Linked DNA regions of Homo sapiens: all the other regions are reported to be linked to region 1. The links are microRNA targets in miRTarBase. Many come from high-throughput screens and were not tested one by one. Region 1 holds a microRNA gene; each other region holds the end of a gene's coding sequence.
What was found. Region 1 holds the annotated microRNA hsa-miR-495-3p (AAACAAACAUGGUGCACUUCUU, at 4,868-4,889, opposite strand). A microRNA usually pairs through its seed, bases 2 to 8, with sites in the 3' UTR of a target mRNA and lowers its output. Matches are read on the target gene's strand: a 7mer-m8 pairs with bases 2 to 8, a 7mer-A1 pairs with bases 2 to 7 and ends in A, and an 8mer does both.

Region 1 (7,126 bases):
CTCACCAGCCCCTACCACCACCACCCTCCACCACCACCACCACCACCACCACCAACACCACCAACACCACCACCACCAACACCACCACCACCACCACCACCAGTACCACCACCACCACCACCACCACCACCAACACCACCACCACCAACACCACCACCACCATCAGTACCACCACCACCACCACCACCACCAATACCACCAATACCACCACCACCACCACCATCACAACCACCACCACCAACACCACCACCACCAACACCACCACCACCAACACCACCAGTACCACCACCATCACAACCACCACCACCAACACCACCAACACCACCACCACCAACACCACCACCACCACCACCATCAGTACCACCACCACCACCACCACCACCACCACCACCACCACCACCACCATCAGTACCACCACCACCACCACCACCACCAATACCACCATCACCACCATCACCACCACCACCATCACCACCACCACCACCACCACCACCACCACCACTAATACCACCCTCCAAAAACAATGATCACAGCTTCCAGAAAAATCATTTTTGGGGTGGAGTGGATGCAGAGGCTTACTAAAATAGCGACAACACATGCCTCCCATAGCAAAAAATGAAGGACCAATAATCCCAGACTCAAACCCTATCTCGCAAGGGTGCCATCACTCCAGGAAGTGCCGCTAAAACGGCTTCAGTTCTGAGGACCAGGAGACATTTTCCACAAGCAAAGCGTATGCTCCATGTCCCACCCTCCATTCACATTCCACACACGGACAACCTACACCAATCTCACTTCTCTAAAGCTGGAACTGGTTCAAAAAAGTCTTGTACTTGAAAACCACTACTTCTCACACATGCAGAGTTAGACATTCCTCCTACTGGCGAATGGATCAGTGAGTGGACCAGATAACACCCATTGTCTGCTATTAGCCAGTCCCTCCCCTGCAGTCACAGCTTGTTGAGGAAGCAAGTCTGATCCCCCGAAGCCCCCAAGCACGATTTGGCATAAATAAAGCACGTCTACATGGACAAGCATTCTGCACATACCAGCCAGAGCAAGGCCACTTCCCCCAGGTCGGGGCTGCCTCCACGAGGCCCTGTTGAGAACCAGTGGGACATAGCTGGTTAGGGAATTGGACGGTCTGAGTCATAAACATGTATTCTGTGTGGCCAGACATCATTCGTGTCCCAAGGAGTGGGTCTTGCCAGGATGGTCCTGAAGGAGGGGGACATGTGATTGAGGAATAGCTGCTGGCTGGGCTTAGGGGTCTTCTTTTGGTAACTGAAACAGCGGCAGCCTGGAAGAGCTGGGGTAGGTGTAGTAACCAGCCAAGGAACTCTTCTTCCCCTGTGTTGGGAGAAAGGTCAGCCCACACACTGTCTCTTCCAAGGGGCTGGCATCCCTCCCTGAGGGGCCTGGCTAGGGTACCCAGGCTAGTGAACTGACACATCCGTGTCTGCCCCGGGCCCTCAGCTCTAGGTGCAGCTGACTCCCCAGGCCCTGCTGTGGGATGTGGCTGCAGCAGCCCTGCTCAGGACTTGTCCTTAATTGCATATGCCCCTAATTGGTTTCTTCCGCTTTTTTCACCTGCCCCCTCCCCACTTCCTCCTGGAATGGGCTTCCCTGATGGTACTTCCTCTGTGATTAACCATAAATCCTGTAAGCATAGAAGGAACATCCACCTTTTAGATGCAAAAAGTTGCTGGCCAGATGCAGTGGCTCACGCCTGTAATCCCAGCACTTTGGGAAGCCGAGGTGGACGGATCACCTGAGGTCAGGAGTTCGAAACCAGCCTGGCCAACATGGCAAAACCCCATCTCTACTAAAAATACAAAAATTAGCCAGGCACGGTGGTGGGTGCCTGCAATCCCAGCACTTTCGGAGGCTGAGGCGGGCAGATCACAAGGTCAGGAGAGCAAGACCATCCTGGCTAACACAGTGAAACCCCATCTCTACTAAAAATACAAAAAATTAGCCGGGTGTGGTGGCGGGCACCTGTAGTCCCACCTACTCAGGAGGCTGAGGCAGGAGAATGGGATGAACCCGGGAGGCGGAGCTTGCAGTGAGTCGAGATTGCGCCACTGCACTCCAGCCTGGGCAACAGTGTGAGACTCCGTCTCAAAAAAAAAAAAATCAGTTTGCCTCCCATGTAGTCACAAACATTCCCATCCTCCTCACGTATTTGCCATTTTTTTTTCCAGTGTATACCTATGTCCTCCCTATTCTTTAGAGTTTAAGCTTTGGCAATCAAGAGACAAGCTAGTGTATATTTTGCCATTCTTCTAAAACTCTGAAAACTGTGTTACACATGGTTTTGTTCATATTTCTTGGTCCATTTCTTAACAAGAAATTGGTGGTGTAGGACCTAACTTTTTATGTATAGATTTACCTTAGGAAACAGGATTATATGGTGATTCATTCAATAAAGTCTCAATTCTCAAAAGAAAAAACAAATAAAGGAAAACACTTGCCAGCTGTTCCACCATCTGCGCACATACCCTCTGCGAGGGGCTGACAGACACCCACACTGTGTTCCTGAACTTCACACCACGTACAGCAAGTCCTTCAAGGAGGCACTCAGTGCTTTAGGAGGTCCACTGTGGGGTATCTGCCACACACAGAGTGAACACATCACCAATAGCCTCCCTCCAACCATTCCTGGCCGGCTTCTGGGGTGCTGTCTCTCTTCCAGAGCCCAGGGTGTCCTCCTGCAAAGGAAACAGACGGCAAGGGTTAACACACAAGGATACGTACCATCAGAGATGCAAGGCTTCCTTGAGGCCCTCCTCTGACGTACCTGAGGTGATGGAGGCAACAGTGACCCTCTCCTGACATAAGCAGCAGTGAGAGCAGAATCCCCCCTCGATGGGAGACAAGGATCTGGTCGAAAGAGAACTGTCCATGTCGCGTCATCCAACAACTGTGCTTCCCCTTCCACAGGGGACTCAGAGCCAGTGTCCCCTCCAGAGGTCCTCAGGCTGAGGGTCCACCGGCCAAGTGGCACGTGTCATATACAGACTGTGGGGCCTGCCTTCTGCTCCCACAGCTGCACCTTCCCTGAAGTGGGCACCCCATCATTTAGAAAGGTGGCACTCAAATGAGTAAAACAGGTTGACTATGCAGGCCACAGCTTGGACAGCCTTTCTTGATGGAATGTCCTGACATGAAGACCGGTGCTGCTTCTCCAAAGTGTTTCTGCCACCGGGAAGTTCTCTGGAGGGAGGCCAGAGCCCAAAGGATGGGTGGAGCAGCTGCCCACTGTCTGAAGGGCACCTGCTGAGGCCAGCATGGTCCCAGTGTCACCAATGGACTGCCGTTAGCATCTCCTTCCAGAAGTGGGTTCTGACCTTTCCCGATGGCACATGATTCTCAAATAGAAGTGCACCATATTTTTCATCATAAATAAAGGGAAAAAACACAGATAACCTCTCCTCCAGTACCAAAGTGTAGCCCGGAGAGCAGTCCCACAGCCTCTAGTTCTGGCTGGCAGAGCTCCAGGAAGCCCTCCTGGGGGACAGGGATGCTGAGGTTCGGGGGACAGGGATGCTGAGGTTCAGAGGACCAGGTGGCCGTGGGGATGACGCGTATGCTCTCTGGGCAACACCCATCACTCACCCCAGAGAGCTGCTGATGCCACCAAAGCTCCCAGCTCAAACAGCCTTTCCCTTCAAGTGGGATTTGATACTGAAAAAAGAGTGGCCAAAAATGATTCGTCACAAATAAAATGAACACACTGGGGAAACCTCTTCTCTTCCAGGGCCCAAGGATGGACTGAATGTGGGGACTGGACACCCGGACAGCAGTGTCTTCGGGAAGGCATGTGTTCTGCCGTCAGCCATTGTTCACTGCTCCCGATTTGGGGCAGACACCAATGTCAGACACCATCTCTCTGATGCTGGTGATCAAGGAGCACATCTCTCAGAGGCAGAACTGGCACCTAGAAAGAGTGGGGCGGGGGCTGGGCGCACTGGCTCATGCCTGTAATCCCAGCACTTTGGGAGGCCAAGGTGGGTGTGGATCATGAGGTCAGGAGTTCAAGACCAGCCTGGCCAACATGGTGAAACCCCGTCTCTGCTAAAAATACAAAAAATTAGCTGGGCCTGGTGGCGGGCGCCTGTAATCCCAGCTACTTGGAAGGCTGAGGCAAGAGAATCGCTTGAACCTGGGAGGCAGAGGTTACAGTGAGCCAAGATCGTGCCATTGCACTCCAGCCCAGGAGACAGTGCGAGACTCTGTGTCAAAAAAAAAAGAAAGAAAAAAAGAAAAGAAAAGTAAAGAAAGAGCGGGGCAGGGAGGATTAGGCTCCAGTAAATCACCACTCTGAGAAATCCCATCTCCCAGAACCACAGGGACGCCTTCTGCCACAATTGCTACCCCCAATCAATTCTTCTGTGGAGGTGCGGGTGGCAGTCCCCCAGATGGCATGTCCTCATGTCCCCTTCAGCCATCCCCTCAAGCCTCTGGAGAGAGCGGATGGGGGCAGGGGTCTTCATTGCTTATTTGTTTTTGTTGTTGTGGCAGCTGCTTCCTTTTTTATTTTTTTCTTGGCTGCTATGATCTGAACTCTTCTCAAATGTTGGGGAACGCTTCTCAATGGAGCCTGGAAGTGCATCTCCCCAGCCTCCCTGGCAGCGGGGAACTGGCATGTGGTTGAGGCCTCGCCAACTGTGCCTGTCCGAGAGGTGGGCGTGGACTGAGGACTGAGGACTGAGCATGGTCCCTGAGCCCACCAACACACAAAGTCACCGAGGGGCTGCCAGGACAAATCCTCCATGTACATACCAAGAGAGGTAGTGACACCAGGTCCCATGCTCAGGGTCCCGTCGGGGATGGAGGCACTTCAAGGAGATATTTGATACCGAAAAAGAAGTGCACCATGTTTGTTTCGTCACATATAAAGCGAAAATAACATGGGCAACTTCTTTTCAGGTACCAGAGATGAGCACGTCCTCCCTGCCAGAGGCACACCTGGGCGTGAAGGGACACTGAGGGTCAGGGCGTGAGGGCAGGGCCGGGCAGACGCTGCCAATCAAACTTATGCTCAATTAAGCCTAAAAGCATCAGGTAAGTTGGCTCACCCCAGGGGAGGTGGGGGACATGCTTCGAAGGGCTGGGCTGACACTGAGCAGAGGCGGACAGTCATCACGGATAAAGCAAACCGATCCCAGACTCCCTCTACTTCGGGATCCCAGGAAGTCTTCATGGGCAGAATTCAATAATCAGGGCAGACGGCTTTCGGAATGTTTACTATCAACCCTGCAAATGCTCATGGAGAGCATCACTTCAGAGAAAATGGGATGGTCCTGGACCCAAAAATAGAATCTCCTCCATGAGCCCATGGTTCCAGGAAGGAGATGGGAAGACAAAGATATCGAATCAGGAGAAACAAACCACCAAGGCAGCCCCGGCTCTCGGTGGACCCATCTCTCTGTGCACCTTGCATGGTGCTGACCACTGCACCTCCTCTCTAAAGTGCTCCGGGTTCCCTGGAGGCATGGCTTGGTTCTAAAACACTGACAGTTAAGTGTGAGTTGTGACAAATACAGCCAACCCACAGAGAGCCAAAGGACAGCAGGGGCCAGGAAAGGACAACGGCTTCCCCAAGTCCACATCACTTGCAGGGCAGCCTCCCAGAGAGAGGTGGATTCGAGGGAGAGTGAATCGGGGCAGAAGTTCTGGGGCCCACCATCCATCAGGCCTTCCAGAGAGGACCCAGTGACCCATTGCTGGACACAAAACACGGTAATTGTGCATCATTTGTCAACCATAAATTAAATCACTAAGACAAAGCTTTGAAAGCATAAGTCCATAAGAAAAGTCACCTTCCACCAAAACCCTGCCTTAAATAGGACACTGAAGATAGATAGGCAAACCGTGAGAAACACATCATTGAAAAAAATGCAGGCTTTCCCAGTCACACTGGAAAACACACTGTGGTATCATCTGTTTGTATTGCAAGTAAGATAAGATCTAACTCCAACTGGCTTAAACAAGTAAGGGATTTATAGACGTATATAACTAAAAAGTACAGAGACAGAGCAAGCTTCAGGCAGGGTTTGATCTAGGGACTCAAATGATATCATCCAGGCTCTTCTCTAGGTCTCCAAGATGCCTTTCATGGTACAGACTCCCTCTGCTGTGTCTGCGTGGCACCAAGCCCTCTCCTCTCAGTCCTTAAACGGCTGTGGGACCTTCGAAGCTCACGTCAAAGTTCACTGTCTATTCCCAGCTGAATGGAATAGACAGTGTCTACTCTGGCAGCTATCACAGGAAAGGGAGAAACAGTTTCTTTCCCAGAAGCTGCAGCAAGCATCTCCTTGCCTATCACTGGCCCAGTGGGGTCATGGGCCTATTCCGGAAGCAATTGCAGTGGCAAAGGAGAAGAGATCAAGAGATTCGCTTAAGCCTGGGCTGGTGGAGGAAGTGGGGCAGGGTCAATGCAATCAAAGCACACGGCGGGAAGACGGGAGCTTTCATAAAAAAAAAAAAAAAAAAAAAAAACAAGGAGAAATTTAGGAAGGAGAAAAGACATGGGGTAGGGAGGTCCTGATCAGCGTCCACTACAGGGGCCCATGTGCCTTCCCTGAAGTTGCACCCAAACCAAGACGTCTTCAAGGCAGAATAGGATACTGAAAAAGAAGTGCACCGCGAATGTTTCGTCACAAATAAAGCGAAAAAAACACGGGCAACTTCTCATTAAGTACCGCACGTCAGCACCGTTGACAACACTGCTTCTCCGCGGCTGGTATCACTCCTGCGGGCTTCCTGAGAGCACATGGGTCCTGATGCGCACCGGGCAACCGGTGACAAAGATATGGCCGTGCATACAACCCCCTCAAGACCTGGGAGACATCTAACAGGTCTGCCCCCTCTGCACAGGTGGCATTGTGTCCTGGAGCTGCTTGTGAGCACGATGTGTTCAATTTCTCAATAACAAAAAGTCTCCTCCAGTAGCACAGAATATGACAATGGCACAGAAACAGTGATTTTGCATCCTAAAAGTCCTCCTGAGGATACATGAGGAGGGACCAGGAGAGTCACAATAACTCCCCAGATAAGATGGATGAGATCTACCACCCACCCTTTAGGGACAAACAGCAAAGTGTCTGCCCTGATGGAGCCT
Region 2 (7,126 bases), not on the chromosome of region 1:
ATAGGCCCAAAAAAGAGAGAGAGAGAAGAAGAAGGAGAAATAGCTAAATTGGATCTCATTACAATTAAAAACTTTTATTAATCAAGGGACATTATTGAAGTATAAAAATACAACCTACAAAGAGGAGGAAAATATGTGCAAATTATATATCTGATAAAAGATTAATATCCAGAATATATAAAGAACTCCAAAACCTCAACATCAACAACAAAACAATCCAATCCAAAAATGGACTAAGGGCTTGAATAGATATTTCTCCAAAGAAGATATGCAAATGGCCACTAAACACATGAAAACATGCTCAACATCACTAATCATTAGGGAAATGCAAATCAAAACCACAGTGAGATACCACTTCACCACTAGTCATAGGGTGGCTATTGTCAAAAAAAATTGAAAATAACAAGTGTTAGTAAAGGTGCATCGCTGATGGGAATGTAAAATGATGCAGTCTCTGTGGAAGTTTGCTGTGTGAGCACAAAAGTATCTGAGACAGGTCTCAATCAATTTAGAAAGTTAATTTTGCCAAGGTTAAGGATGCACCCATGAACAGCCTCAGGAGGTCCTGATGACATGTGTTCAAGGCGGTTGGGGTACAATTTGCTTTTATACATTTTAGGGAGACAAAATACAATCAATCAATACATGTAAGATTTACATTGATTTGATCTGGAAGGTCAGGACAACTAGAAGTTGGAATCGGGGGGGTCATATGTAGATTATTAATTTTTCTGATGGCAATTTGTTAAAAGAGTTATTATCAAGGGGCCTCAGAAATTTATTTTTGGTTTACAGGTGGTTCCTACAAAAACTTAAATGTGGAATTGCCATATGAGACAGCAGTCCCACTTCTAGGTATATACCCAAAAGAATTAAAAGCAGAGACTCAGACACGTTTGTACACCAATCACCCCAAACATTCATCAACAAAATGTGGTGTGTATCTGTGTGTGTGTGTGTGTGTGTGTGTGTGTGTGTGTGTGTGTGTGTGTGTGTTTCAGCCCCATCCCCATCCCTACCTCAGGAGAAGGGAGAGGAGCTACAGATTGAGTTTAATCACCAATGGCCAATGAGTCAACGAATCATGCCCCAATTATATTTGAGGGAAAATACTTGTAAGTGATAAATAAGTGAGAAATGTTGTAATAAATACAGGTGGCCAGGCACGGTGGCTCACAGTTGTAATCCCAGCACTTTGGGAGGCTAAGGGGGGCATATCACTTGAGCTTAAGGGCTAGAGACCAGCCTGGGTAATATGATGAAACCCCATCTCTATAAAAAATACAAAAATTAGCCTGGGGGTTCAGCACATGCCTGTAGTCTCAGCTACTCAGGAGGCTGAGGTGGGCAGATCACCTGAGCCTGGGGAGGTCGAGGCTGCAATGAGCCGTGGTCACACCACTGCACTCCAGCCTGGGCAAGTGAGATCCTGCCTCAAAAAAAAAAAAAAAGAAAGAAAGAAAGAAAAACTAAGGGTATGGACATAAAAGTGGAAACAACAACAGACACTGGGGACTACTACAGGGGAGAGGGAAAAAGGCTAAGGGCTGATATACTATCTGTTGGGTCCTAGGTACTAGGATGAGATCATTCATACCCTAAACCTCAGAGTCATGCAGTCACACATTATACCCATGTAACAAACCTGCACATGTACCCTCTGAATTTAAAAGTTGAAATTATTTTTAAAAGCCTAGGGGTGGGGGTGGGGGGGCACGATACTGAAATTGGAATGCTCTTTCTTATAGAATGCCGACTACTACCAGCCTGGCCAACATGAAAACCCCATCTCTATTAAACATACAAAAATTAGCCAGGCGTGGTGGCGCACACCTGTAATCCCAGCTACTTGGGAGGCTGACACATGAGAATTGCTTGAACCCAGGAAGCTGCAGTGAGCCGAGATCACACCACTGCCCGCAGCAGAGTGAGACCCTGTCTCAAGAAAAAAGAAAAAAAGAAAAAAAAGAATGCCAACTAGTAAATATAGGATATGAGAAAATCACACTCTTGAATCCCTAGTAATAATTTATTCACACAAGAATCAATTCAAAAGATGCTAAAACAAGTTAACTAGTTAAGGTTTGATGAGGAACAGCTACATGCAGTTATGTGCTACATAGTAACGTTTCAGTCAACAGTGGTCCCATAAGATTATAATACCTTATTTTTACTGTACCTTTTCTAAGTTTAGCTGTGTTTAGATACACAAAATACTATTGTGTTGCAATTGCCTACAGTATTCAGTAGTCACATGCTGTACAAGTTTGTAGGCTAGGAGCAACAGGCTATACCATACAGCCTATTTGTGTAGTAGGCTATACATTTAGCTTTGGGTAAGTATACTTTATGATGTTCACACAATGACAAAATCGCCTAACGATGCATTTCTAGAATATATTCCCATCATTAAGCAATGCATGACTGTAGACAGTCTCAAAGAATCTCAAAATAAGCTTCCTTATTACAAAGGGAAAAAAATAACAACTACAGGGAAGGAACCTGGTGAATGCCATCTCAGCCAAGTGATCAAAGTTATTGCCACTAATGACACAAACCAACATATGTGCCACCTGATGTGACGCCCTGGACAGAGCTGCAGCATCATTCATGTTGTATTTCTAAAATAATGCATAGTCTGAATCAACTTGTAATGAAATGTGAGGCAAAAACAAAATGAGGGCTTATCTGCAAAATAAATGGTCCCCCCTCTCCAAAAAGGTCACTATCATTGAAGACAAAGAAGGGCTGAAGAATCATTCCAGATTAAAGGTGACTAAAGAAATAGGAAAACTAAATGCAATGTGTGATCCTTCCTTGGATGAATCAGGAAGAAAGATTGATATAAATTATATTACTGAGACAACTGGTGAAATTTAAATACAGTCTATAGATAATAGTATTATATCAATCAAGATTTTCCTGATTTTTTTTATCATTGTCTTGTGGTTCTGTAAATGGATGATCTCACAGTCCAGGTAACAGTAAGGGGCATGGTATTTGCAATTTACTATCAGATGATCTAGGAGAAAAAGTATAGATACATATGTGGAGACAGCGAGGGCAACAGGAGTGTGAAAAGAATAAAACAAATGTGACATGTTACCTTGGTGAATCTGGGTGAAGAGTGTATGGGAGTACTCTGCACTATAATTGCAACTTTTCTGTAAGCTTCGAATTGTTTCAGAATGAAAGTTTTTAAAAATGAGCAAGAAAAACTTCCCATAAGTGCGCCATGTTTACACTTCTGGAGAGAGGCTCTTCATACTTGCATCAGGTTCTGACTGTGAACACTCCTCAAAAAAGGGTCAAGACACATGAATAGAAGTGATAAGAAGGGAAAGAAAAATTATGAAAAAAAACTGATACACCTTCTTCCCATTACTTATATTTCTTTTGTTTTAATTTTTTTTTTTTTTTTTTTTTTTGAGACAGGGTGTCATTCTGTTGCTGAGGCTGGAGTGCAGTGGCACAATCATGGCTCACTGCAGCCCTGACCTCTCCAGGCTCAACCTTCCACCTCAGCCTCCCAGGTAGCTGTAACTGCAGGTGTGCACTACCATACCCAGCCGATTTTTGTGCGTTTTCTTGTAGAGACAGGATTTCACCCAGGCTGGTCTTGAATTCCTGGGCTCAAGTGACCCAGTTGCCTCAGCCTCCCAAAGTGTTAGGATGACAGGTGTGAGCCACTGAACCCAGCTTAATTTAAAAACAAAAAAATTTTATTTGATAAGAGGTCTTGTTATGTTGTCCAGGTGGTCTCAAACTCCTGGCCTCAAGCAATCCTCCCAAAGTGCTGGGATTATAGGTGTGTGCCATCATGCCCAGCCATATTTCTATATTTAGTCATATTCTCTGACTCTTATAAATGGGAATTAAACTCAAATAGCAAAGATAAAGATCTGAAGCAATGATGTTAGTCTGAATATCAGGGTTTTAAAAAAAGGTTTTAATTAAAGCAGTAAAACTTAAATATTGTAAAAATAATAGCTTTTGCCACATTAGCAATAAATGCTGTTCTTTCTTTAGTCTTTATTAATAGAACCATGGGCTTGCTCTATCACTCAGGCTGTGCAGTGGCACAATTGCGACTCACTGCAGCCTCGAACTCCTGGGCTCAAGCAATTCTCCCGCCTCAGCCTTCCAAGTAGCTGGGACTACAGGTTCATGACACCACTCCTGGCTAACTTCAGTCTTTAAAACTCAATAGTTGACCCAAAACAAATTTCTCATTCATTTTATATCATTTATTCATTCATTCTGAAATATTTCATCAATTTTGAACCAAACACTGCTCACTGGTGGGGGGAGGAAACTGCAAGTAATCATTAATTGACTCTTCTCATTGACCACAAAATTAAAATATATTTATTACACTGGAAAGTGAAGTTTCTTCATTGTGGCTAGATCAAAGAATATGATTATAGGTGAGAAATGTGTAAAGAGTACAACAAAAAAATCAATTTAAAATGACTATTTAGGGTGGGCGCAGTGGCTCACACCTGTAATCCCAGCACTTCGGGAGGCTGAGGTGGGCGGATCACTTGAGGTCAGCAGTTCAAGACCAGCCTGGCCAACATGGTAAAACCCTGTCTCTACTAAAAACACAAAAATTAGCCAGGTGTAGTGGTACACTCATGTAATCCCAGCTACTCAGGAGGCTCCTTCAGAAGACAGAAGGAGCATTGCTTGAACCTGGGAGGCGGAGGTTGCAGTGAGCCAAGATGGTGCCACTGCACTCCAGCCTGGGAAACAGACACAGCGAGACTCCATCTCAGAAAAAAAAAAAAAAAGATTTTTAAAATGTCACATGTAATTTCTCAAGAAAATTAACTGCAACTCAGGTTTATTTTCACATTGTTTAATTTTATGTACATTTCACATATCATAAATACACACAATACAAAAAGCTATACAAAAACCCTACTAATTCAACATTTAAAAAAGGGAGAGGGAGATACTGCATTTGATTTCTGACACTTTTCTGTTTAAATAATACTTAAATTCAGTTTTCAAGAAGACAACAAATTGAAAATCATTAATTTTTCAGAGGGCTTTGTGTTCACATAAATTCATCATTCAGGCTGGGCATGGTGGCTCACACCTGTAATCCCAGCAAGTTGGGAGGCTGAGGCAGGTGGATCACCTGAGGTCAGGAGTTCAAGACCAGCCTGGCCAACATGGCAAAACCCCATCTCTAAATAAAAACAAAACAAAACATAAATAAATTCATCATTCAAGTATATTTTTATTGAAGCAATAAACCACTTCACTGGCTGTAGAGTCAAACTGGGTAAGCCTCAATATTGAGCAAAAGTAGAGAACTCTTGCTTTCCTCAGCCTAGAATCAGCTTCTAACACACGAAATGCAGAGCACAACAGTGATTTTTAAGCTGGCATTATTAAGACCACAGTATAGGGCTGACAATGCACAGCACACCCTATATTGTTTGCCTATAGACTCTTGTTAAAAATATCATACTAAAAATAATAATTAGAAATTTTATTTTTCCTAATTTTTTATTCAATTTAAAAAATAATACATCTTTTTCATTGTGCTTGGCAACTGGACATGACATAATTTAAACACACAATGGAGAAAATATATACATAACTGCTAAAGGATTTTGACATTGTTTAAATTAATTATTTTATTATTTTGGTTCAACAGTTATCAATCACAGTAAATATAAATAACAAAATAATATCATTCATCATACGATCATGTTTTTAAAAAGTGAATTGTTGAGGCACAAAAACATTACGTGACTTGCCCAAGGTCATGAAGGGAATGAGGGGCAGACAACAGCATGTTTTTTCTAACTTAAACAACTATACTAACCCCTAGCTTATACCATCTTTCAAAATCAGCTCAGGGCGACAGATACAGAAATTTAACGCATTATCCAGGAATGTTTGTTTAACCTAAACTGCTGTTATTAATAAACTTAAGAATCTATATGTTTAGCATAAATTGTTAGGAATTTACAAATAAGACATCTTTTTCTGAATTACTAGGTGTGTAATTTGTTAGTATTTGACACAATTGCAAAAACAAAATTGACTATTTTAAAGAAACGAATTCTGTGAAAGATGCTTATTAACATGATTTTTTTAAAAAATACTAATTATAGGACCTACAAAATTCAGAAGACAGTACCTTAGATACAAACATTTAATATAAATGTACTAAATCATCTTCTAGTTGACCCTTTGTTATCAATGAAAACGTTCTAACAAAGCACTCATAATGTTTCCTGGTATTCTTTGGTGCTTATCAATCAAAGCTTGAACAGCATTCTTCGTCTATTAAGAAAACAAAAGAAAAGCTATTGTTAGTAGATCTTAATATAGACTGATTTATCTCCCATTACCCCTCAGAATTAATGATTTCCTTCTCAGTACACCTGAAGCTTATATATTTCTCTTTTTTATAGAGATGGGGTTTCACTATGTTTCCCAGGCTGTTCTCGAACTCCTGGGGCTCAAGCAATTCTCCCACCTTGGCCTTCCAATGTGCTGGGATTACAGGCATGGGCCACTGTGCCTGGCTGCAGCATATTTCTTATACTTATTTTATTAAGCCTTCAATTATAGTTGTTGTCCACGTGTCTATTTTCTATATCAGACTGTAAGCTCCTTAAGATACATCTTAGAATTTCTCCAGCATTAAGCACAGCAACACCTTGCACATGATAAACACTAAAGGGGACTTAAAGAGGAAAAAAAATAGAAAAATTTCGAGTAGGCAAATGGAAGACTTAGTCCTTTCCAGCTATTAGTAAATTCTAATGTATATTTTCTTTTATCACCATACATACTGAACAATTATATCAGGGTCTCACTGTGTTGCTCAGGCTGGTCTCGAACTCCTGGACTCAAGGGATCCTCCTGCCTTGGCCTCCCAAAGTGCTGGGATTACAGGCATGAGTCATCATGAACTATGTATTTACATACATATATACTTCCTTTTCTAGACTTTAACCTTTAAAGAAAATAAACACTAGGCCAAAGATGTATTATAAAAATACGCCCCTTTGGCTGGGCGTGGTGGCTCACACCTGTAATCCCAGCACTTTGGGAGGCTGAGGTGGGTGGATCACCTGAGATCAAGAGTTCGAGAGCA
Region 3 (7,126 bases), not on the chromosome of region 1:
TGATCTTGTGTCTGCTTTGAACTTCTCCAGTCCATTCTCCAGCTGGCAGCCAGAATCATCTTTTTCAAAACACAGTTCAACTCTGTCCCACTCTGCTTAAACTCCCTCAGTAGCTTCCCATTGAGTTTCAGATAAAGCCCAAACTCCTATCCATTCTTCCCAGGTGTGATGGGGCACCCCGTGCCCTCCAGCCTCCTCATTCCCACTTTTCTCACTATGTTGGCTTTCGTTTAGGTCTCTGAACCCTCCAGGCTCCCTCTGGCCACAGACTTGCCACCTGGCTAGCTCCCTCTGCCTACCCCTAGCCTCTGAGAGCCTTTCTGCCTCCTCTGATGAGGCCCAATCCCCTAGTAAATGATTTTATTTACACAGTAGACAATAGAGGCTAGATGCATATTTTTTTTCTTAAAATATTGGACTACTTTTATTTTCTTACATAATAATGATATTTATTTAAAGTGCTTTAGGATAGTTCCTGGATATCATTATGTACAGATTAAAGTTTAAAAATTAAACTTCTGAACCATGAGATAGATTGGTTCCCATTCAAGTAATCCATTCACATTTTACCTACTGTAATGACTGGAATGTGCTGTAACATACTTTGCACCCCTGGCCTCCCTTCCTGTCTCCTATAATAATGGAGCTGTGTTTTCAAGTTTGGCAGGATGGCTTCTGTTGGAAATTTGCCCTTTTAAGTTAGGAAGACTGACCCCCATCTTACTGCTCTCTTTCGAAGCTAGTCTAATGGAACAAGTAGACTCAGGACAACTTGGACTAAATGCACTGTAAACCACAATGGAAAAACTGCAGTGAGGTATTCCCAGTAGAAATCTTGGAATTCCTTCAAGTATATTGAGATTTTGTTAGAAATTGAATTGCCAGTGTAATCCATCTTCCTTTTGAGAAAACATTCAGATAAAGAGCTGAGGCCTAGCAGCATTAACTGTTAGAACATCCCTTAAATCAATAAGCTACAAATCTGGCCGCACATTCCTGCCGCGCCTGGTGGTGTGCTCAAGTGGCTTTAGGCTGAAGCAGCATGACTGATAGCACATCCTCAACCAGGCACATGCCTGGCGATGCAGATTCCTGTGTTTACCGTAAGCATTGCCTTGTTCCATTCTACAGAATGCAATTATATTTTGTTTCACATAAGAAAAGCAGTTTTTCTTTTTTTTTTCTTTTTTTTTTTCTTTTTTTCAGATTTTCCAAATGTGGTTATTGAAGGAGTCCTCCATGGGATATTTTACCCTCATCTACAGCCCAGGTAGAAATCCTACATGGCTAAAAGAAGCAGAAGCAAGTTTCGAAGTCACAGTCAAGGAAATCAATACCTACCAATTTAACCTAAACGCTATGATATATAACAGCTCTAGCTAGTGGTAAAGTGCACAGTCCCAGCTTAATTCAGGGCAGGGACATTTCCATTAGAATGGTGCTCTTAAAAATAGAAACTGAACCGGGGCGGTGGTCAGGCTAAGGCCAAGTGTTTAAGAAGTAGAGTGTAGCTGCCAGCGTAGAAACCCATGAAAAGGAGGCCACAGGAGATTCCTGGGAGCACTGGGTGTAGCAAAACAAAGCCACTCTCTGCTTCAGTCGCACCATTTGCTAATTGAAAATCATATCCTGAATCATACTGAGACTGATCAACTTTGGTAGCTTTTTTGTTCAGATCTTATGACACACTACTCTTCTCACCGTGAGATTTTCTCAGCCAGTGATAGTACATTCTGAAATGCTGGCACCAGGAGACGGCCACAGACACACACTGCTAAATGTGAAGATGGAACTAAACTGGAAATTAAATTATACTGACAATATTATGGCATTTTTAAGATCATGGCATTTTAATTTACATTAGAGTGGAGTTGCATCATACTCAGGGGTTAGCTTCCAAGGTCAGTACATAGGTAAAATGGGCTATTAGGATGATCCTTGAAAGCCCTTTAGAAGGGTGCCATGTTGGAAACCTGTACATCCACAACAAGTAGCTTTTCCTCCTATGTTGGAAAAAAAGACTGTTTCTTTGTTTGAAGACCAAGTGAAGTTGTTGGTGTTTGTTTAGGGGCCATTTTGTTAAAAAAAAAAAAAAAAAAGCACATAACTTTTAACACTAGAATCAGCCCGCAAGATGCTTGCCCCGCTAGTGGCAGATGTGAACTGACAAGGAGTGAAGCGCCCACCCAGCGGATGGACAGCACCCACCTGGGTTTACTCAAGGGTGTGCATTCATTTTAGGTGGGATCGCCACAGGATTTCATGTTATTTTCCTTACGGCTTCCTTTTCACTGACCTCATTTGTTGAGTTAATGTAAGTTAAATGTGTTTATGATATAACTCCACTGTACATCATCCTTTGAGTAGTAAAGGATAAAAGCATATATACTACCTATATGTATGTGCTGTATGTGGGCATTTCATTGAGATCTAATTAATAGCTAGCCTATTTATGGTTATTCGTTTTAGTAAGTTCTGTGGGAGCAAGGTATTTAAAATCAAAACTAATAACTACATCATGGTTTTTGATTAGGATCTAAATATTCAGGTTTTAAGCCTGCTGCAAACTTTTAAAATATTATGATAGATTCTGTACTACATGTGGGAAACAAGCAAGAACTAAATAATCAAATGTTGTCAACCAAAAGTAATAGTTGGGTATTGGAGATTTTTTTAAAATGTTTTTATGTTATTAGCTATTTGGAGTTAAATAAAAACAGAACAAGGAAACATTTGAGTTTGTCTTCTCCTAAGATTTCACTGGAAACATGGTTTGTATCTGTCTGTTTACACACACACACACATATGTGCACACACAAAACCTCTCACACATTCACATAGATGTTTATTTCTAATATGATAAGATAAATTATTATAATAAATTATCTCATCTATTAAGTCAGTAGATGTTCATTAAATATTTGATGATTTACCAAGATAATAAGAATTTTTTTGAAAAAACCAAGTATCTATAGTGGTACACTGCCCAAGAAATCTTTTCTGAGAATTAAGTTTTTTCTTAGTGATGACTTTCGCTTTTTATATTTATGTAAATTTTATTTCCCATGTCAAACAAGTCATATGCAGACATCATAAGATTTGCAGGAGGCACACCTCACAAGAGTGGGAAAACCCAGTCATCACACTTATGCACTACACAAGGATCATATCTATTTAAACTTTTAATGTGTAATTCTGTCAGGGTTATTGAAGGAACTAGAAACCAGTGTAGGTCTTTTACGCAGAAAAGGCTATAATGCTGAAAACTGAATGCTTACAGAATCTGTTGGAAGGGTGAGAGGAGTGCACTCCTGGTAGGTGTCCAAGAACAAATTCCAGAATGCCCCAGCAACTTCTAGCACTGACCTGCCTGGGGAGCTACAGCCTGTGCTGTAAGCAGGAATACAGGGAGTTAGGGGGCTGTGAGCGAAGCTCTTGAGGTAAACAGCATGAGAGCTGCAATCCAGGGATCAGCAAGTAGAATCAAAAAGGACCTGTTATCTCCATGAGATACGGAGCTCCCAGGAAATATAATGGCGATCTCTCTATGAGGTGCGGCCTCATAGCAGCACCCAGGAAGCTGGTGACTGGGCCTGCATCACAATTGCCTATCAACATCCGTGGCCTTGCTTGCCAGCAACCACAGCCCAAAGTGGCAGGAGGATGGTATTCGCCCACTCCCACCTCCCACTCCATAGCTCCCTTCAACGCACATCCAGTTTGTAGAACCTTATTCTCCATCCCAGGTGCAGGGAGTCTGGGAAGAAGCTGCTAGCCTTCTACAGCTCAGGAATGCACATGGGAAAGATGATGGAACTTTTTTTTTTTTTTTGAAGACGGAGTCTTGCTCTGTTGCCCAGGCTGGAGTGCAGTGGCACAATCTCAACTCACTGCAACTTCTGCCTCCTGGGTTCAAGCATTCTCTGCCTCAGTCTCCTGGGCAGCTGGGATTACAGGCGCATGCCACCACGCCTGGCTAATTTTTGTATTTTTAGTAGAGACAGTGTTTCACCATCTTGGCCAGGCTGGTCTTGAACTCCTGACCTCGTGATCCAACCACCTTGGCCTCCCAAAGTGCTGGGATTACAGGCATGAGCCACCGTGCCCAGCCAGAACATATTTCCATCATTTCCATGGTTGAAAATTTAATAAAAAATATATAAAACTATAGATAAAAAATAAATTTGTCTCCCATCTCATCTCCTAATACCGAATTCCCGTTCCACAGAAGGGAGTACTTAATGTGTCTGTACTTAATGTGTCTACTTTGAGTAATATTTCATCTACATACAAGCAGATATTGTATGTTTAGTGTACATATATTTAATTTCTCCTCTTTTACAAAAATGGTAGCACGCAATACCCATTGCTTTCTATTTTTTTTTATTTAACAATATCTTGGCAATCTTTCTGTATCAGTATATAAAGTGCTATTCTCTTTTTAAAAAAAAAAAGCTGTATGGATCTTCTATAATTTGTGTAACCACTACCATATTGATAGACATTTTACTTTTCGATTTCACTAGGCATGCCTGGCCCATATTGCTCTACAGGTTGTGCATTGCACAAGTCCAAGCAGTGTCATTCACATGGACCACAGTGTTAATAGTATTCCAAGTCATGCTTGGAACCCTGCACTTGGGGAAATATCAAAAACTTTAATCATTCAAACCATGGATTCACAGGCAATAGAGAAGTAAAGGACAGAGAAAGGAAACCAGAGGAAGGAAAAGGAAAAAAAAAATCCCATTACCACTTAAGTCAGGATGTGGGGACATCATTTGTCCTGCCTGGTTCCTGGACTTGGTGTTTTGCCTGGACTGTCTTCGATGCTACCTTATGCAGTGCCTCTCAGGCCTCATCTCTGCCTACTCATTCTGCATATTGGCAGCCCTCGTGTCCTTTCTCCTGGTGTCCTTGTTACTGCCCCCATTACAATCAGCCATGTGAACAACCCCAATATCACCATGACCATCAATACCTGGTAAATCCTACAGTTACAGTTATAAGTTCCCATTGAAAAGAAGTTGAGCTCTCTTAATCAGTTTAGAGAAATATGATCACACTTTTGAAATAACAGATGGTTTTCATCTCATTTGTCAACTTTGATCGATTGACAATGGCTGCTTGAAGTGCTGCATCAAGAAGAATTCTGGCACACCTGTGAGGATGGCTACTATCAAAGCAGAAAATAACAAGTGTTGGTGAGGAGGTGGAGAAATTGCAACCCTTGTAACTGTACATTGCTGGTGGAAGTGTGAAATGGTTGCAGCCTCTGTGGGAAATGGTATAACTTCTTCAAAAAATTAAGCATTGAATTGCTATGTGATTCAGCACTTCCACTTCTGGATATATACCTAAAAGAAGAAAGCAGGGACTCAAACAGCTATTTGTATAATGATATGGTTTGGCTGTGTCCCCACCCAAATCTCATCTTGAATTAATCTTAGTTCCCATAATCACCACAGGTCGTCAGAGGGACCTGCCAGGAGGTAATTGACTCATGGGAGCAGTTACCCCCATGCTGCTGTTCTTATGATAGTGAGTGAGTGCTCGTGAGATCTGATGGTTTTATGAGGGGCTTTTCCCCCTTTTGCTTGGCACCTCTCCTTCCTGCCATCATGTGAAGAAGGATGTGTTTGCTTCCCCTTCTGCCAAGATTGTAAGTTTCCTGAGGCCTCCCCAGACATGTGGAACTGTAAGTCAATTAAACTTCTTTCCTTTATAAATTACCCACTCTCGGGCAGTCCTTTATAGAAGCATGAGAACGGACTAATACATATATTCATGTTCATAGCATATATTCATAGTAGCCAAAAGGTGGAAACAACCCAAGTGTCCGGCAATGGATGAATGGATAAAAAGGAAATTCTGACACATGCTGCAACACAGATGAACCTTGAAGACATTCAGAGACATAAGCCAGTCACAAAAAAGCAAATACTGTATGATTCCATTTCTATGAAGTATCTAGCGTAGTCAAATTTATAGAGACAGAAAGTGGAACTTTGGTTGACAGAGGCTGGGGGAAAAGAGGAAATGGAGAATTAGTGTTTAATAGGTTTCAGCTGGGGAAGATGAAAACATTCTGGAGCTGGCTGGTGGTGATCATTGCTTAACAATGTAATGTACTTAATGCCATAGTATTGTACACTAAAAATGGTTAAAATAAATTTTATGTCATGTATATTTTACCACAATAAAAACAATAAAGGCTTTTGAGTGACTGCAGGCTCAGAGAATAAGGCTGTACTGATCAGGTAGCACTGTCTGTCGTGGGTGCAGGAGAGCTTTTGGCACACATACCAGTTACTAGTCTCACATCCCTGGCAACCTCTACAATCCTGAAACAGTAGTTCTAAACCAGAGATTTGCATCAGAATCACTTGGGATTCTGAATCAATAAATCTGGCCAGAGACCTGTCCTTGGGTAGTTAGAAACACCACCCAGTTCACTCTGATACACACCTGTATTAGGGACCACCAATTGATGGAGATGGTTTATGACCCACCCTTTAGCCATCTTGAATTATTTATTGACTTTCATAACTCCTTCAGAATCCAGTACCAAGAGAACATCTGTTCAACTCTTGGGGGTGTTTGTTATATGAGGTCACAGGAAAAGACCCTGAAGAAGCAGGAAGGACAAGTTTGGGTAGTGGTCTCAATAGATGCACTATACATAATTGGGAAGTTGTATATTCATTCATTCAGTTGTTCAGTGAAATGCATTTGGGTCCCCCCACTGGATTAAGGCACTATGTTAATTACTTAAAGAATACAGATGTAATCCTTGCCTTCTGGAATTGTTGGCCATTTACTAGGAAGGGTTTTTCCATCTTAATGAATTGGACATAAAGTTCAGTGATTAAGGCTGTCTTCTTCCAGTCTCTCTACTCCTTGCAAGTAATTATTTTCATTTTGGCTTTGTTTTGGTTTTTATTCTTGATGATAATTACAGATTTTGAATTCAGCAGCGGAAACACAGGGAAGTAGCAGGCAGTAACTCAAAACCAAAATGTCTGCAACGTTTATGTTTTCTGTCTGTGCAGATACATAGTGACAGACTGGATTCTGATGAGGGTGAAGGTCTATTTTTGTGTGACGGGAAGGAGGGCATATTATC
Region 4 (7,126 bases), not on the chromosome of region 1:
TTTTAATTTTTTTATTGACTCATTGGTTGTTCAGGAACATGTTGTTTAATTTCTGTGAATTTGTAAATTTTTCAAATTTCTTGTTATTGATTTCTTGTTTTATACCATTGTGATCAGAAAAGATACTTGATATTATATCAACCTTGTTAAATTTGACAAGACTTGTTTTATGGCCTAACATATTATCTAATCTATTTTGGAGAATGTTCTATCTTCAGTTAAGAAGAATGTGTATTCTGCAACTGTTGGGTGGGATGTTCTTTTTTATGTCTGATAGGTCCAGTTGGTCTAGAGTGTGGTTTAAATCCAATGTTTCCTTTTAGATTTTCTGTCTGGATGCTCCATTCATGCTGAAAGTAAAGTGTTGAAGTCCCTTATTATTGCTGTATTGTAGTCTATCTCTTCCTTCAAAGCTATTAATATTCGCTTTATATATTTAGTTGCTCTGATGTTGGGTGCATATATATTTACAATTGTTATATCCTCTTGCTGAATCCTTTATCATTATATAGTGACTTTCTTGGCACTTTTTACAGTTTTTGTCTTAATGTCTATTTTATCTGATGTAAGTATAATTACTTTTGCTTTCTTTTAGTTTCCATTTGTGAAGAATATTTTTTTAGATCTCTTCACTGTGTGTCCTTATAGGTGAAGTGAATCTCTTTTAGGTAGCATATAATTGGGTTTTGGTTTTGTATCACTTATCCATTCTGTGTCTTTTTATTGTAGAATTTAATCAAATCACATTCAAGGTAATTACTGGTGGATTAGGACTTATTATTTCCATTTTGTTAATTGTCTTTCTTTTTGTAGATCTTTTCTTCCTCTCTTACTTTCTTTGCGATTAAGTGATTTTTTTTGCTAGTAGTATGTTTTGATTCAATTCTATTTTTTATTTATCTATTATAGGTTTTTGTCTTGTGGTTTCCAAAAGGCAGACCAAAAAATCTTGTAAAGGTTATTTTAAGCTAACAACTTACCTTTGATCACCAAAAAAATAAACCTCTACACTTTCACTCCGTCCCCTTCGATTTTGAATTTTTGATATTACAGTTTACATCTTTTTATATTCCATATCCCTTAGTTAATATTGTAGTTATTATTTTTACTACTTTTATCTTTTAACCTTCATACTAAAGATACAAATGATTTGCACACCACATTATAGTATTAGAGTATGCTAAATTTGACTGTGTACTTACTTTTACCAGTAAGTTTTATACTTTCAGATGCTTTGTGTTACTCATTAGTATCCTTTTCTTTCAGCTTGATGAACTCATTTTAGCATTTCTTGTAAGACAGGTCTGGTGGTGGTTAACTCATTTAGCTTTTCTTTGGTTGGGAGTTTTTATACCATCTTCATTTCTGAAGGGCAGCTTTTCTGGGTACAATATTCTTGGTTAATAATATTTTTCTTTCAGTATTTTGAATCATCCCACTTCCTCCTGACCTGTAAGTTTTATGCTGAGAAGTCTGCTGCTAGGTGTACTGAAACTTCCTTACATGTTATTTCTTCCTTTTCTCCTGCTTTCAGGATACTCACTTTGTCTTTGATCTTTAACAGTTTGATTATAATATGTATTGGGATAGTCTTGTTTGGATTGACTCTGATATTAGGTATCAAGGCAAAATTCTATGCTCATTTCTTTCCCTTTCTCACAAGCAGATGCTATCTCTCTGTGCCATGTGTCTGGGATTGGTGAGGGTGGGTGGGTAATGCAAATAATATAAAACCATCCTTTCTACTCTCTTCAATGCATCTTTTCTTATTATTATGCTATAATCAGGCACTGTAAACTCTCACCTGGTTTCCTTAGCTATTTTGAAGGTATTTTCATGCATGGATAGTTGTTCAAATTGATCTTTCTGTGGGCAGAGGCAATCCCTGAAGAGAGCTATTCCATCATCCTCCTCAGCTCTCCTCCCCAGTTATGGATTCATATGTTAATTGTCCTGACTTCAGCCTCTCAAACTATATACACTACAAAAAGGCTTGTTGTTTTGGACAGCGAGCAGATAATTACTTGCTGAAGTTTATGTCCATTAAGTTGAAAAGAATTCATTAAATGACTGCAATGATGAGGCCCATGTAAGATGTTGTTATTAGAAATTATTTTATTAACTTGGGATTTAGTGGTAAGGGAATTTTGACTTCACCTCTTTTCTTGATGGTAAAATAATACATTCTATATATTTTATGCATTTCAGAGTAAGTCTCATTTCTTTTGGTCAGACAGCAAATTCTTACTAGACCCTAACCAGTTGATACTTTTCTTACCAGCTTCCTCTTTAGTTCTTTCCTTTAGCCTTGCTGTACTGTCATTCCTTCCACTCTATGAAAATGCCATGATCCTTCCTGACTGAAGGTTTTGGTAAGCTGTTTTGCTGGTGGACTCTTCCCACTTCACCCCAGATAAGTCCTAATCATAATTCGTAGTTGGCCTCAGATATCACTTTCTCAAAGAAATTCTGATACCTTGAATGAATCAGATCCTCCAATTATATGTTCTTCTGGTGGTGTTCATTAGAAATGATGGTAAGTGAATAAGTCCTCAAGTTATTACTTTGATAATATGGCTCTTCTGCTGAAATGCAATCTCTGTGAAGGCTGAGACTATGGCTTTCTATTCACAGCTAGAACTGTAGCATCTAACATAATGTTCACATATAATAGGTTTTCAAGAATGATGCTTTCAATATGACTAAAGGAGAGAATTTGTTAATGAAAAAAAAAGTGAGGATGATGATGAAGACAAATCACCTGTTGGGTGACTCTGGATTCTCTGATGACCATATTCTGAAAGTGTTGACAACTTTGTATAAATTACTTGTAGAATTTTCAATTCTACTTGTCTAACAATTTCCTTTTCAATTCCTCTAATTGTCATTTTGAAGTACAGCATTGAAGAAGTAAAATATAGAATAAAATCATTAGCCTTTATTAATAATTCATTAATTTTTCTTCTGTGTGTCATCTGATAGATTATACAATTACAATTAGGACACTGTTTAATGAAGCTAAAGTTTACCTTGCATAACCAATTTCTTACTAAGGACACAATTCAGTCATCAGACACATTCAGAAACATTGAACCAAACCTCTATGGAAATGAGATTTTCTCTGTGCAAAATATTTATATATGGCATGCATACATTTAACCATGGCTCACAAGGAATGCAAAGAGCTTAAGCTAAGTCTGACATAACAAAGATGAAGGAACTAAAATGCATTCTCTAGTATTTTTGTGCTAAGTTGGGGGAGAAGGGAAGGAACAGCCACACTACTTGATTTTCATATTGTATATGTTGGTTGACCTTATGAGTTATTGAATTTGATGGTCATAAACAGTAGCACATCAAAACACGTGATCCTCTCTCACAACAACAGTAGCAAAAGAAAAAAGTCATTCTGTGACTTACCCTTCTAAGATTAAAAAAATGAGAGTATATAATACTAGCTTTGTGATTAGGCTTTAAAATTCTCTGGGCTCAACAATTATTTTATTTTATTTTATTTTGAGACAGAGTCTTGCTCTTTCCCCCAGTCTGGAGTGCAGTGGCGCGATCTCAGCTCACTCAAGCTCCACTTCCTGGGTTCATGCCATTCTCCTGCCTCAGCCTCCCGAGTAGCTGGGACTACAGGTGCCTGCCACCACACCAGGCTAATTTTTTGTATTTTTAGTAGAGATGGGGTTTCACCGTGTTAGCCAGGATGGTCTCGATCTCCTGACCTCGTGATCCGCCCGCCTCGGCCTCCCAAAGTGCTGGGATCACAGGCGTGAGCCACCGTGCCCGGCCTGGGCTCAACAATTATATATTGGTTCTGTTTACATTTCCATGTCCTCTGCCTTCTAGCCCTTTTTGTTCATCGCCAGGGAGAATGTAGAGATAATATTCTTTCATATGTCTTTTACTTTCCTGAAATTAAGAAAAGATAAAAACAAAATTCATCAATATAACTTTGAACTGTATATCATATTGTTACGCTTACCTTTACTATTTGAGTTTCTAAGTATACGTTTCTGTGCTTTCTTTATTATATGTTCTACATGGACGATATTTTCAGCAATTAAGGCAGTAAATGAGACATAAACACAGTATCCTCTAGGCAAATGACACTGAGTGGGTTAATTAAGGAAGATAGTTCAAACAGGCAGATTTTGAATCCAAAATCTGAAAGACTGATTTTGTAAAGAGTATAAGCATGAAAAATAAAATTTAGATTGTTTTACACTATTATTTTGTTTCTTCAGTTAACTAATAGTATTTTAAAGTGGTTGCAGATCTATGCCTTGAGTTTTCTAAGATCAACTGAAGCGATCCATATCGAGTAACTAATGTAAGAATTTTAATTTTGAGCCCTGGTAAATTCCAAGTTTTAAGCCCACTTGTATGCCTATGTAACCAAAATGAACCATTTATCACTATAAAATATTATTTGCAAAGTGACTGGCATTATGATTTTCCTTCCCCCATCTCAGGAAGACTAACATTCCCCTAAAGACTGGACTGGAAATTTAGAGAAGAAAATGGTGCACTTTTCCTACTCTCCCTAATAGAAAAGCTACATAAAACAAAACAAAAATACAGGTATATTAAAAAATTCTATCCCAATTGAAATAAAAAAAATAAATCAACCGCCACAATCCACAACCCATAAACTTTAAAGAGTGGCTGCCAAATACTATTTCTCTGGACTGAGAGTAGGTAAGAAGCTGACAGCCAATACATGATTATTGGAAGTCAAATAGGATACAGATTTCTCCTAAACTTTCTGAAAGATATTTATAAGCACCGTTTGACTAGAGCAATAAGAACACATGTACATGGATAGGGCACTGGGGTGATAGAAGAATGTTTCAACAGAGAACGAGTTTGTACTATGGAATAGAAAGAAATCAAATTCTTAAGAGATCATTTCCCACCCCACAGTCACTCAGTGAGTATTACCAGAATTAAGGTGAAATAAATTTATAATAAAACAAAAATATTTCATCTTTCTTACAGTTCCATTAGAAGAGAGCTTGCTAATTTTAGACAGTGTAGTGCAAAAAATATAAACAATTATTTTCTGTCAGATAACAATGGCTCCAACAAATCAACAGGGTTTTTCTTTATTATTATATAAACATGGCAAAAAGAATGTGAAAATAAAATACCTGTATTTGGGAAAGCATGAAATATGAACACTGTCACTATTAGTTTTCTATACCAGGGGCATCCAATCTTTTGATTTCCCTGGGCCACATTGGAATAAGAAGAATTGTCTTGGGCCACACTTTAAATACACTACCGCTAATGATAGCTGATGAGCTAAAAACGAGATGTATGAAAGTTTATGAATTTGTGTTGGGCCACATTCAAAGTTGTCCTGGGCCGCATGTGGCCTGCAATCCGTGATTGGACAAGCTTGCACACCATTCTACCTATCAGTAGAAGTTTATTATTGCCACCACCACCAAGATTTACTGATGGACATTATATGCCAGTTATTGCAATTTCTTTATTTCATAACAGTTGCTTTATACATCAATAACTAAATTACAGTATAAAGAAGAGGATTCACATATAGTTCTTCTTTTTCTTACTGATAACAAATTCTTCCTCTGTTTGCTATGCTTAGTAAGGAAGTCAATGAGAGCCAGTAGTCAGTGGTTCCACACTGGCAGGAGCCTACCAGCATAGCTGTTGACCTGCAGCATTGGTACCCAGCCCCACCAATACATAATTTGACTATCACCCTTAAACAAATGCTATTTTGCAATAAGAGGTAAAATATCAGTGCAACTTAAAAAACAACACTTGTACATATTTTTATTCAACATTTTACATTATTCCACAAATATGTACAATTTCAATAATAAATTAAAAAAATGAGTAAAGTAAGTCTGAGAGAAGTTCATAGTCACTATATTACTCAATGACATTTTTCTGCCTTCATTTCTAAGAGTTCATCTGATCCAAGGTCTGATCATCTTCTTGACAGAAAAACTTGTTTTGACAGCACATTTGAAATGCCGAGTGTTTTGTTATGTCTAAGCAGCAGAGTGATGTTTGTTAATAACAGAAACACTTTAAAAAGAATCAATTGCAATCAAGAAGTGTTGATGAACATTTGGACAATATGTACAAAACTCTGCAAAAATTCTTTAATATTTTTTTCCTCCAGTTCCTCACATTCTTTGCATCCAGATTCTGTTACATTCTGCAAAATATAGAGAGAGATTAAATTGGCAATTTATAATTAAATTAAATATACATTCATGGGAATGGGAATATCATATCGTTTGAACCATATGGTGAGGTCTTGAGATATGAAAGCTTTAGCAAATAAATAGCATATTAGGAAGAACTACGAGGAAAGAGAACAGGGAGATTTGATATATGTTTATTTTTCCAATAATGGGTTAAGGACATTGAGAAAAATAAGCTGTGTCTATCAGACCACGGAGTTCCTGCTTTGAGCCCTTCAATGGTTTCCTATCATCTGCTTCTAGCATAAAGACCATGCCTCCCTGCATAGCACACAGGCTCTTCATGAGCTGTTCCTTACCTATTTATTTCACATATCCCCCTTGCCTCAATGTTATGCCCTAGAAACACTGAGTGAGCATCTGGCTTTCCTTGCCATGCACAGCATACTATTAGATGCCTCTCTGCCTTTGCTTTTCTCTCTGTTACATTCATTCCTATTTTAGCTGCTGCTACTCGCACTTAAGATTATTCAGGTACTCTTTTAGGGAGGCTTCTCTGAACCCCTGGGCTCCTAGGGCTGGACTCAATGTCCCATCTTTACATCTCAGAACCCCTTATTTAGACCTCTCTCACAATATGTCATGTATTCTATTCATATTATGAAGTTTTACTCTTTTTATACTGTAATACTATTCTCTAAGCTCTCTGCCAGAAGGTCAGAGCCAGTATGTTTGTTTCCCTAGCATTTAGCACAGGGCCTGACACACTGTAATCACCCATTGGTTGAACTGAGCCATTTAGGTGAATACCACAAATTGTTGTACTTCAAACACAGTCTCATGGATAACTAGAATGTTCCAAATGTAGCAATTAAGAATAAACTTTTTAGAGATCATCTGAACCATGAAGGCTGTGCCAGCAAAAATAAAAA

Region 2: the mRNA of TMEM68 is a reported target of hsa-miR-495-3p. Seed matches in the 3' UTR shown: 7mer-A1 at 5,695-5,701.
Region 3: the mRNA of SNX24 is a reported target of hsa-miR-495-3p. Seed matches in the 3' UTR shown: 7mer-m8 at 2,059-2,065 and 7mer-A1 at 2,076-2,082.
Region 4: miRTarBase lists IL15 as a target of hsa-miR-495-3p. Seed matches in the 3' UTR shown: 7mer-A1 at 5,592-5,598.

What each region holds. Positions count from the first base shown.
Region 1 is chr14:101,031,567-101,038,692 of GRCh38, reverse strand. MIR495 (microRNA 495) reads right to left here and starts at 4,938; the gene lies at 4,857-4,938. It overlaps LOC124903407 (mucin-2-like), which reads right to left. Exons shown (of 5, transcript XM_047432049.1): 5 at 4,211-7,126. It overlaps MIR543 (microRNA 543), which reads right to left and starts at 6,706; the gene lies at 6,629-6,706.
Region 2 is chr8:55,733,913-55,741,038 of GRCh38, forward strand. TMEM68 (transmembrane protein 68) reads right to left here. Exons shown (of 8, transcript NM_001286657.2): 8 at 4,846-6,306. The coding sequence ends at 6,220. Among named protein-coding and RNA genes, the nearest start is that of TMEM68, 36 kb to the right of the region's middle.
Region 3 is chr5:123,006,476-123,013,601 of GRCh38, forward strand. SNX24 (sorting nexin 24) reads left to right here. Exons shown (of 7, transcript NM_014035.4): 7 at 1,207-2,730. The coding sequence ends at 1,274. It overlaps LOC124901213 (small nucleolar RNA U13), which reads right to left and starts at 3,165; the gene lies at 3,067-3,165.
Region 4 is chr4:141,731,817-141,738,942 of GRCh38, reverse strand. IL15 (interleukin 15) reads right to left here. Exons shown (of 8, transcript NM_000585.5): 8 at 4,956-6,205. The coding sequence ends at 6,095. Among named protein-coding and RNA genes, the nearest start is that of IL15, 99 kb to the right of the region's middle.